2 separate regions of the Homo sapiens genome follow, and region 2 is linked to region 1. The links come from fine-mapping of genetic effects on gene expression. Tissue or cell type: blood mononuclear cells. Region 1 holds a variant in brackets; the other region holds the start of a gene. All regions are shown on one strand. Distances are from middle to middle.

Evidence for each region. PIP is the estimated chance that this variant, and not a neighbour inherited with it, causes the effect.
Region 2: MYO1F starts here. The variant in region 1 is fine-mapped to the expression of MYO1F in blood mononuclear cells (TOPMed, PIP above 0.99).

What each region holds. Positions count from the first base shown.
Region 1 is chr19:8,518,594-8,523,979 of GRCh38, forward strand. It overlaps MYO1F (myosin IF), which reads right to left. Exons shown (of 28, transcript NM_012335.4): 26 at 4,041-4,236; 27 at 3,784-3,953; 28 at 2,185-3,011. The coding sequence ends at 2,935. Among named protein-coding and RNA genes, the nearest start is that of ZNF414, 7.1 kb to the left of the region's middle. RefSeq lists an enhancer at 4,084-4,583. The variant A/C (reference allele first, on the strand shown) is at 1,690.
Region 2 is chr19:8,573,760-8,579,257 of GRCh38, forward strand. It overlaps MYO1F (myosin IF), which reads right to left and starts at 3,683. Exons shown (of 28, transcript NM_012335.4): 1 at 3,548-3,683. The coding sequence starts at 3,550. RefSeq lists enhancers at 2,128-2,187, 2,528-2,587, 2,758-2,937 and silencers at 3,058-3,107, 3,645-3,794, 5,015-5,209.

The DNA of each region.
Region 1 (5,386 bases):
CTGCCCACCTCAGCTTCCCAAAGCCCTGGGATTACAGGCGTGAGCCACCGTGCCCGGCTGCTAGTCTTGCTTTGATTCCTGGCTCTACTGGGGATTCCCGATGCCCCATTCTTCCGTTGGGTAGGTATTCTGTGCCCGCAGTTCGCTCATCACAGCTTAGATCACTCTGTGCAGTGCTTGTCAACCAAATCTGCTGAGACCGACCCTCTCCCACCTTCCTGGCTCCTGCTGCAACGCCCATTCCACCTCTGAATTCCCCTCGCTTCTGTGGGCCAGTCCTCACCTCACCAGTCAGCCCCATCTCTACTGGACTGGCTTCTCTTTGAGGGGCTGAGCACAGAGCGGGTGTCCATATTAGAAAGCTACAATTAATTATTATTATTATTATTATTATTATTATTTTTAGAGAGAGACAGGGTTAGCTCTGTTGCCCAGGCTGGAGTACAATGTTGTAATCAGCTCACTGCAGCCTCGACCTGCTGGGCTCAAGTGATCCTCCCATCTCAGCCTCCTGAGTATCTGGGAATACAGGCATGACACTAGCTTTTTTTTTTTTTGAGATGGAGTCTCACTCTGTCACCCAGGCTGGGGTGCAGTGGCGCCATCTCGGCTCACTGCAACCTCCGCCTCCCAGGTTCAAGCAATTCTGCTGCCTCAGCCTCCCGAGTAGCTGGGACCACGGGCGCGCACCATCACGCCCGGCTAATTTTTTGTATTTTTAGCAGAGATGGGGTTTCACTGTGTTAGCCAGGATGGTCTCGATCTCCTGACCTTATGATCTGCCCGCCTTGGCCTCCCAAAGTGCTGGGATTACAAGTGTGACCCACCGTGCCCGGCCAATTTTAAAATTTTTTTGTAGAGACAGGGTATTAGTAGGTTGCCTAGGGTGGTCAAACCTTAAGTGATCCTCCTGCCTTGGCCTCCCAAAGTGCTGGGATTACAGCTGTGAGGCACCATGCTTGGCCAGGATTTGGTTTATTTTAGTATTAGAGACAGGGTCTTGCTGAGTTGCCCAGGCTGGAGTGCAGTGACGCGATCATAGCTCACTTCAGCCTTGAACTCCCGGGATCAAGTGATCCTCCAGCCTCGGCCTCACAAAGTGCTGGGACTACAGGCATGCACCACCACTCCCAAAATTCAGGAATTTTTTTTTTTTTTTGAGACAGAGTCTCACTCTATTGCTCAGACTGGAATTCCATGGTGCAGTCTTGGCTCACTGCAGCCTCCACCTCCTGCCTCAGCCTCTCAAGTATCAGGGACTACAGGCACGTGCCACCATGCCCAGCTAATTTTTGTATTTTTAGTAGAGACAGGGTTTCACCATGTTGGTGAGGCTGGTCTGGAACTCCTGACCTCAGATGATCCGCCCGCCTTGGCCTCCCAAAGTGCTGGGATTACAGGCATGAGCCACTGCGCCCAGCCCAAAATTCAGGATCTTTAGGCTCAGACCATAGCAGGACTCCAGTCTTAGTCCCAGTTAGGTGAAGACTAAGAGGGCACAGAAATGGGATTGGGGTGCAGGGGGCAGGAGTGACCCAGAGTGCATTGAGGGTGGGAGCATGTGGCATGTGGGACCTGCCTCTCTCCATAGGTCCCAGATGGGTTTGGCGGCTGTAGCTTCAAGACTAACAGGACCTGCTGGACCATTTGGGATGCAGATTTTGGAAGGGAAACTGAGACAAATTCTTT[A/C]TTTTCTTTTCTTTCTTTTTTTTTTTTTTGAGATGGAGTCTCGCTCTGTTGCCCAGGCTGGAGGGCAGTGGCGCAATCTCGGCTCACTGCAAGCTCCTTCTCCCAGGTTCATGCCATTTTCCTGCCTCAGCCTCCCGAGCAGCTGGGACTACAGGCGCCCGCCACCACGCCCGGCTACTTTTTTGTATTTTTAGTAGAGACAAGGTTTCCCCATGTTAGCCAGGATGGTCTCGATCTCCTGACCTTGTGATCTGCCCGCCTCGGCCTCCCAAAGTGCTAGGATTACAGGTGTGAGGCACCGCGCCCACCTCCTCCCTCCCTCCCTCCCTTCCTTCCTTTCTTTTTTTCTGAGACAGGGTCTTGCTCTGTTGCCCAGGCTGGAGTGCAGTGGCATGATCTCGGCTCACGGCAGCCTCTGCCTCCCGGGTTCAAGTGATTCTCCTGCTTCAGCCTTCCCAGTAGCTGGGATTACAGGCAGGCACCACCACACCCGGCTTTTTTTTTTTTCTTTTTTAAATTTTTAGTAGAAACAGGGTTTTGCTGTGTTATCCAGGCTGGTCTTGAACTCCTGGTCTCACGTGATCTGCCCGCCTCAGCCTCCCAAAGTGCTGGGATTACAGGCGTGAGCCACTGCGCCCAGCCCAAACTGGGACAAATTCAAGCTTTATGGTCACATATGAATGCAAGGCATGGCTCTGTGCAGTCTTGGGTCAGTGAACCTCTCTGAACCTCCATTGTTCCACCTGTAAGATGGGGTCCTTCACAGCTCCTACCTCACAGGGCTGTGAAAACATCGTCCTTGTTGGGCACTTAGTAAGTTAACTCGTGCTTTCACCTGGCAAAGGTTTATTGCCTTAGTGATGACAGAATGAGCAAAGTCACGCTTGTTAAGGACCCCCCCCTCCCCAACTGTGCCTGGCACTTTGCCAACAGCACAGGACTCAAGACCCATTTCTTAATCACATGGCAGTTGGGAGGTAGATTCTGCTGTTAGTCCCCTTTGACACACACAGAAATGGAGAATGGGCAGCAGGTGTGATGTTGGAGGAAGACCAGGGCCCAGGGGCGGGGGCTGCAGCAGTGACCTGGTGACCCAGGGCCTGGGCAGGACTGGAGGCCAAAGGACTGGACTTTTAGGCTATTGCAGCCCAGGTAAACGAGGCTCTCATTGGCAGGGCCTGGCTCCCCACCAGGCCGGCAGGCAGATAGGCGGGCGAAAGAGAAGGCAGTATCCCAGGGCCCAGCTCAGATCTTCTCCACGTAGTTTCCTGGGAAAAGGCCCTCCTGGCCGTGAAGCCGGCCCTTCCACCAGCCCGAGGGATCTGTGGGAGAGAGGAAAGCTTGAGGTGCCCCTAGCTGGCCCTGGAGAAAGCTCTCATGCCTGGTCTGTCCATCTTGTTCATGGGGACTCCCTATGTTGTCCAGGCTGGTCTTAAACTCCTAGGCTTAAGCCATCCTCCTGCCTCAGCCTCCCAAAGTGCTGGAATTACAGGTGTGAGCCACTGCATCCGGCCATTTCTACTCTTTAAAAGTTTTTTTTTTGTAAATCTTTTGTAGAGATGGGGTCTTGCTAGGTTGCCCAGGCTTGTCTCAAACTCCTGACCTCAAGTGATCCTCCTGCCTCAGCCACTGAAAGTGCTGGGATTACAGGTATGAGCCACCTCGCCCATCTGTTATCTCTGTTCTCCCGTGGGGAGGGTGTGCAGTGGTGGGGTCTGCCTGGCAATGTCAGTCAGGGTTCTTTTTTTTTTTTTTTTTGAGACGGAGTCTCGCTCTATCGCCCAGGCTGGAGTGTGTTGGCGCAATCTCGGCTCACTGCAAGCTCCGCCTCCCGGGTTCATGCCATTCTCCTGCCTCAGCCTCCCGAGTAGCTGGGACTACAGGCGCCCGCCACCACGCCCGGCTAATTTTTTGTATTTTTAGTAGAGACGGGGTTTCACTGTGTTAGCCAGGATGGTCTCGATCTCCTGACCTCGTGATCTGCCCGCCTTGGCCTCCCAAAATGCTGGGATTACAGGCGTGAGCCACCGCGCCCGGCCGATGTCAGGGTTCTTACCACTCCCCTCACCCCAGCTTCTGCCCTGGTACACACACCTTCCATGAGGATCTCAATGACCTCGTTCACGTTGAAGCTCAGCTCGTCCACATCTTGGCCCACGTACTGGTATAGGGCCCGGCACCTGGGACCATGTGTCCGAGGCTGGGGCTTGGGTCGGCCCACACCAGGCACTGGCCGTTGCCCCACGCTGCGCTTCCTCTGCATGCTGTGGGCACAGGGGGTTTGAGTCACAGCCCCAGACACTCCCCTACCCCCTGCCCACCTCCTGGAGCTGCCCTCCCACCCCACCTACCCGGCCATGCCCTGGTCAGGCACGTTGAGGAATTCTGTGTTGTGCTCTGAGGGCGGACGTGCCCGGGGTCGTCTGCTGGCTCCCAGGGATGTGGACGGAGGGCCCCGGGGAGGCCTGTGGGTGCCCCCTCCAGACATGATCTCCAGGGGCAGGGGGCCCCCTCTGGCAGAGGGGGGCACCCCATTGCGATCCATGCCTGTGGCAGGAGCAAGGATGAAGACATGTATTAGGGTGATGCTAGGAGGATTTGAGGAGGACTTGGCTTCAAGTTCTCAGGCTGAGGGAGGAGACTGCGACACTCTCAACCCAGTGTGGTAAGGATTGGGCCAGACGGAGGGACTCTGCCGCTAGGAGGGCCTAGACAGAAGCTTTTTTAAGCATAATTTTAAAATTATTTTTTACTTTTTTTTTTTTTTGAGATGGAGTCTTGCTCAGTCGCTCAGGCTGGAGTGCAGTGGCGCGATCTCGGCTCACTGCAAGCTCCGCCTCCTGGGTTCACGCCATTCTCCTGCCTCAGCCTCCCGAGTAGCTGGGACTACAGGCACCTGCCACCACGCCTGGATAATTTTTTAAATATTTTTAGTAGAGACGGAGTTTCATCATGTTAGCCAGGATGGTCTCGATCTCCTGACCTTGTGATCCGCCCGCCTTGGCCTCCCAAAGTGCTGGGATTACAGGCATGAGCCACCGCGCCTGGCCAATTATTTTTTACTTTTATTTGTTTATTTTGAGACATGGTCTCACTCTCGCCCAGGTTGGAGTGCAGTGGTACAATCGTAGCTCACTGCAACTCTGACCTCCTGGGCTCAAGCAATCCTCCCTCCTTAGCCTCCTTTTAAGGGGAGCTGGGACTACAGGTATGCTCCACTATGCCCAGTTGATTTTTATAATTTTTAAAGTAGAGATGGGGTCTCACTATGTTGCTCAGGCTGGTCTCAAACTCCTGGCCTCAAGCAATCCTCCCACTTCGGCCTCCCAACATGCTGGTTTTACAGGCATGAGCCACTGTACTTGGCCTTATTTATTTTTTATTTGTTTAGAGACAGGGTTTTGCTCTGTGGCCCAGGATGGAGTGCAGCAGTGAGATCATAGCTCACTGCAGACTCCAACTCTTAGGCTCATGATATTCTCCCCTCTCAGCCTCCTAAATAGCTGGGACTATAGGCACACACCACCATGCCCAGCTAATTTAAAAAGAATTTTTAGGCTAGGCGCGGTGGCTCACGCCTGTAATCCTAGCACTTTGGGAGGCTAAGGTGGGCTGATCACGAGGTCTGGAGTTTGAGACAAGCCTGGCCAACATAGTGAAACTCTGCCTCTACTAAAAATACAAAAATTAGCCAGGC
Region 2 (5,498 bases), 55 kb after region 1:
GAATTGCTTGAAGCCAGGAGGTGGAGGTTGCAGTGAGCCGAGATTGCACCACTGCACTCCAGCCGGGGTGACAGAGCGAGACTCTGTCTCAGAAACAAAACAAAACAAAAAAACAATACTAGCCATCAACAACCACACATAACCAACTACCATTAGCAACCACAGAAAGCAGCAGTCACCAGTCCTATCCTGTTCAAAACCCAACATTGAACCAGCACCACCATTGCTGATCATCATCTTACCAGAAACCAACAATAAACTACCAGCAGCAAATGAACGCTACTACCAACACCTTTCCTCTCCAAATAACAGCAACCACCGATGGTCATCATTCCACTGGTCACCAAGCATCTCCAGAATTTCCAGCTGAAAACAATCCACCACCAACGAACAACATTAAACACCAACCGCCACCACCACCAGCCCACCTGCAAGAGCCATTATCACCACGAACCTGCAACAAGAAACAGCCACAACCACCACCACAACCAATGACACCAACAACCCAGCAATGACCACTCGCAGCAACTCCTCCCCAATTACCACAATCGTCACCTCCGTCCATCCTCATTGCTGAATCCAGAAATGAATGGACATCCCAGCTAATGGCAGCTACCATGGATCAAGTGCATGTTATGTGCTCTGTAAAGCAATGGTCCCCAACATTTTTGGCACCAGAGACCGGTTTAATGGAAGACAATTTTTCCATGGACCATGGAGCGGGGCATTAGATTTTCTTTTCTTTCTTTTCCTTTATTTCTTCTTTTTTCCCTTTCTTTCTTTCTTTCTTTCTTTCTTTCTTTCTTTCTTTCTTTCTTTCTCTCTCTCTCTCTCTCTCTTTCTTTCTTTCTTTCTTTCTTTCTTTCTTTCTTTCTTTCTTTCTTTCCTTTCTTTCTCTTTCTTCTTTCTCTCTTTCTTTCTTTCTTCCTTTCTCTTTCTCTCTTTCTTTCTTTTTCTTTCTCTTTCTTTCTTTCTTTTTCTTTCTTTCTTTCTCTCTCTCTTTCTTTTTTTTTTGAGATGGAGCCTCTCTCTGTGGCCCAGGCTGGAGTGCAGTGGCGTGATCTCGTCTCATTGCGACCTCTGCCTCCTGGGTTCAAGTGATTCTCCTATCTCAGGTTCCCGGGTAGCTGGGGTTACAGGCGCGCACCACCACGACTGGCTAATTTTTGTATTTTTAGTAGAGACAGGGTTTTGCCATGTTGGCCAGGCTGGTCTTGAACTCTTGACCTCAGGTGATCCGCCCACCTCGGCCTCCAAAAGTGTTGAGATTACAGGCATGAGCCACTGCACCCTGCCAACGGCATTAGATTTTCTTTTTCTTTTTTTTTTTTTTTTGAGACGGAGTCTGGCTCTGTCGCCGAGGCTGTAGTGCAATGGTGTGATCTTGGCTCACTGCAACCTCCGCCTCCCGGGTTCAAGCGATTCTCCTGCCTCAGCCTCCCGAGTAGCTAGGATGACAGGCATGTGCCACCACACCCAGCTCATTTTTGTATTTTTAGGAGAGACGGGGTCTCACCACGTTGGCCAGGATCGTTTCTATCTCTTGACTTCGTGATCTGCCCGCCTCGGCCTCCCAAAGTGCTAGGATTACAGGTGTGAGCCACCGCACCCGGCCGGGCATTAGATTGTCATAAGCAGCATGCAACCTGGATCCCTCGTGTGTGCAGTTCACAACAGGGTTTGCGATCCTGTGATAATCTAATGGCGCCCCCGAGAATCTGAGAGGAGGTGGAGCTCGGGCTTGCTTGCCTGCCACTCATCTCCTGCTCTGTGACCCGATAGGGCTCATGGTTTCTAACAGACAGACCATGGCCCGATAGCAGTCCATGACCCCGGGGGTTGGGGACCCTGTTGTAAAGGACTTCAGAAATACTGTTTCATTGAATCCTTCAGCGATCTTCCTGGCATTCACCACTCCTCCAGGAAGATTTCAGCATCCCCAGACAGAGGTGGGTGTCATTTTTTTCTCTTCTATCATCCTCTGCGATACGGGTGGCCCCTCCCAGACCTTGTCTGCCAAGCCGACTGTTGACTAAGCATTTTCAGAGGGCTTCCTTGGGGAGGGGTTGCCTTTCTTTCAAGTAGCAAATCACTTCCTGTGTTCTTTTGATCAAAGCCCTGCCCATCCCAGGACCTGAGCCTCCCTGGCTTGCTTCTCATCTTGGAAGAATTCCCACCCCAACAGTCTCAGAGCTCCAGCTGATGGTTTGGGTGTGAATTCCGGGATGCCCAATTTCTCATCAGCTTTCCTTTTTTGAGACGGAGTGTGCTCTGTCACCCAGGCTGGAGTGCAGCGGCAGGATCTCAGCTCACTGCACCCTCCGCCTCCTGGGTTCAAGTTATTCTCTTGCCTCAGCCTCATATGTAGCTGGGATTACAGGCGTGTGCCACCACGCCCAGTTAATTTTTTGTATTTTTTAGTAGAGACGAGGTTTCACCACGTTGGCCAGGCTGGTCTCGAACACCTGACCTCAAGTGATCTACCTGTCTCAGCCTCCTAAAATGCTGGGATTACAGGCATGAGCCACTGTCCCTGGCCCTCACTGGCTTCCTGAAAGAAGGTGTTGTCTCTCAGACTAACACCACCTCTGCCTCTTGCCCTATGTCCCTGACTCCACCCTAGTAAGCTGTACCTGCCAAGAATCCTGCAGTGGCCGCTGTCACAGCCACATGCTCTCATCCTCACTGACTGAATGACGAGAAATGAAAGCTGAAGTGGTCTACACAGCAGAGAGCTGTGGGGTGGGGTCAGCCCTGGCCACCTCTTACTTTGCGTCTTATGGTGGTACGATACTGCTAGGAATAGCGCCATGATCACGACAGTCTCCCCGTTGCTATCATCGACAGACCTCAGACTTGACAGGCAGCAACACCTCTGGCTGCCATCCTCCTCTTGGGATAAGGGATGCCCACCAAAGGGTGGCATGGACGTATTCAGCCTCTCCTGCCTCTGCTGCAGCCATACCGCCCGTCACCGGCACAGGGAGGGCGTCAATCCACCCCATCGCTTGTTAGACATAGCTTCCCATCTCAGCCGAGGACTCTGTGGCAGAACCCACAGACCTTGAGAATGTTGCAACTGAAAGACCCCTGAAGAGCAACTTCCGCATCTAGACGGATTTCCAAATATGACATCTGTGGGAACCGGGGCCAAGAGAGGGGAAGTGACTAGCCCAAGGCTACACAGGGAGACGAGAGACTGGGCTGGACTGGGAAAGGGCTCCCTTAATTTGCAAGCAAAGGAGGCTATGTCCTTGTCCCTGCAGACTCTGTGATTCTCCCTGGGCCACCTTCTGTCTTCCAGGTCCTGCCCTATCCTTGGATCCAGGGATACCACCCTGGCATCCCCACCACCTACAGATGGGAGCTTGCTCCCTGGTAAGGGATGCTGGAGGCACCTGAGCTGCACTGAGAGACACCCCACCCCCACAGAAGTCCACCATGCCCCTCCCCTCACCCCAATTTCTGATGGTCATTTTTAGGACACCTCCACCTGGCTGGTGTCCCTCCTCTTTCTTCTTCCAGATCCCACCCTTGAAGGACTTACCATGGTGGGGGGCTGGTGTCTGGGCTCCTGGAGGCTCCTGAATGGGTCGTGATGGAGGTGCAGGTTCAGGGGGATCTTGGGGGTGGCTTGGGCATGGCCCTGCTTCTGCCCGTTCACCGGACTCCCGGCTTTAGTTCCTCTTACAACAGCCCCTTCTCACTTCCTTTGGCGGGAGGGGCCGAGGCCATGGGGGAGGGAAGCTGGGTGTGGAGGGGGGCGGGGAGCTGGCTGTTTGGGGCTCTGAGCCTGAAGGGAGGGGTCAGAACTTGATGGCAGCCACTACTGGACCTCAGAGGCCTCTTCCCCAACTCCTTGGGGACAGGGCTGCTGCAGGAACATTTGGGTCAGCTGGCTGCAGGACGAACCACCTCTTTTCAGGGCGATTCAGGAAGCATTTGGGCTTCCCGGGTCTCTTTTTAAAACCAAGGAAGGGGCCCAGGGGAGGTGGCTCACGCCTGTAATCCCAATACTTTGGGGGGCCAAGGTTGGAGGATCGCTTGAGTCCAGGAGTTTGAGACCAGCCTGGGCTATATAGCATGACCCCATCTCTACAAAAAATGAAAAGAAAAAAAATTAGCTGGGCATGGTGGCATGAGCCTGCAGTCCCAGCTACTCAGAGGGCTGAGGTGGGAGGATTGCTTGAACCTGGGAGGTGGAGGCCTCAGTGAGCCCTGATTGCGCCACTGCACTCCAGCCTGGGCGAAAGAGTGAGACCCTGTCTCTAAAAACAAACCAGAAAAAACAAAAAAACCAAAAAAACAACAACAACAGGGAAGGGTGCCTTCTTCAGCTGTGTCTGCTCTGGGCATCCCTGGGCAACCTCCTTCATTATTATTATTGTTATTATTTTGAGACGGAGTCTAGCTCTGTCACCCAGGCTAGAATGCAGTGGTGCAATCTCAGCTTACTTTAATCTCCGCCTCCTGGGTTCAAGCGATTCTCCTGCCTCAGCCTCCTGAGTAGCTGGGATTACAGGTGCCCACCGCCACACCTGGCTAATATTTGTATTTTTAGTAGAGACGGAATTTCGCCATGTTGGCCAGGCCGGCCTTGAACTCCTGACCTCAGGTGATCCTCCCAACTCGGCCTCCCAAAGTGCTGGGATTACAGGCATAAGCCACCACGCCTGGCCCAACCTCCCTCTTTAGATGACCCTCAGAAGTCACACGTGTTTGTGTGCAGAAGTGGAGGGTACTGGGAAGCAGGTGCATCTGAAAGGTCCCTGACTTTGGATGTCACATCTAGATTTAACAGCCTCCAGTTTGGCTACTTCCTGGATGACTTAGTTACTCCCTTTTCTCATTGTAAAATGGGAACGTGGGTCCCCCCAGCAGAGCCTGGCCCAGGTACGTGTCAGCCTATGAGCTGGTCTTTGGGACACCAGCCAACCACCTGAGGCTCCTCTTGACATGTGAGGAAATGGCAGTTCTAATAGGTTGTTACTTCCCCACACCACCCAGCAAGGAGGTGGCCGAGGCAGGACCCGACCCTGGGAGACCCTGGGGGACCCATGTTCAGATCTATCTTTGGTCCAGGGCGATAAACCCGCATCCCCCTTGAAGATGTTAATATGCAGCGCCCCTAGTGGCCACAGCTGGGAAGGAGCCCGTCTCTGCTGGAATCTCCTGAGCGAGTTTGCAGAATTGACGGGCTTGGGGCATGCAATTCTCAGCAATGTCTCCAGGCACTCAAGAGTGAATATGAATGGGTAAGAGGACCCCACTTTGTTGGGGGCCATCAGGGGAGGCTTCTAGGAAGAGGCAACGTTTGTGCTGACACCGGCGAGTAAGCTGGAGTTAAAAAAGGTAAAGGGGCAGGAGCGTGCACCTGGCCATGCTAAGCGCTCAAGCAAAGGCCCAGATATGGGAAAACCATAGGGCAATTGAGGAAGTTCGGGGAGGCTGGTGTGGCTGGAGCATGCGGAGTGACGGAGAGTGTGATGGCCAGGGTG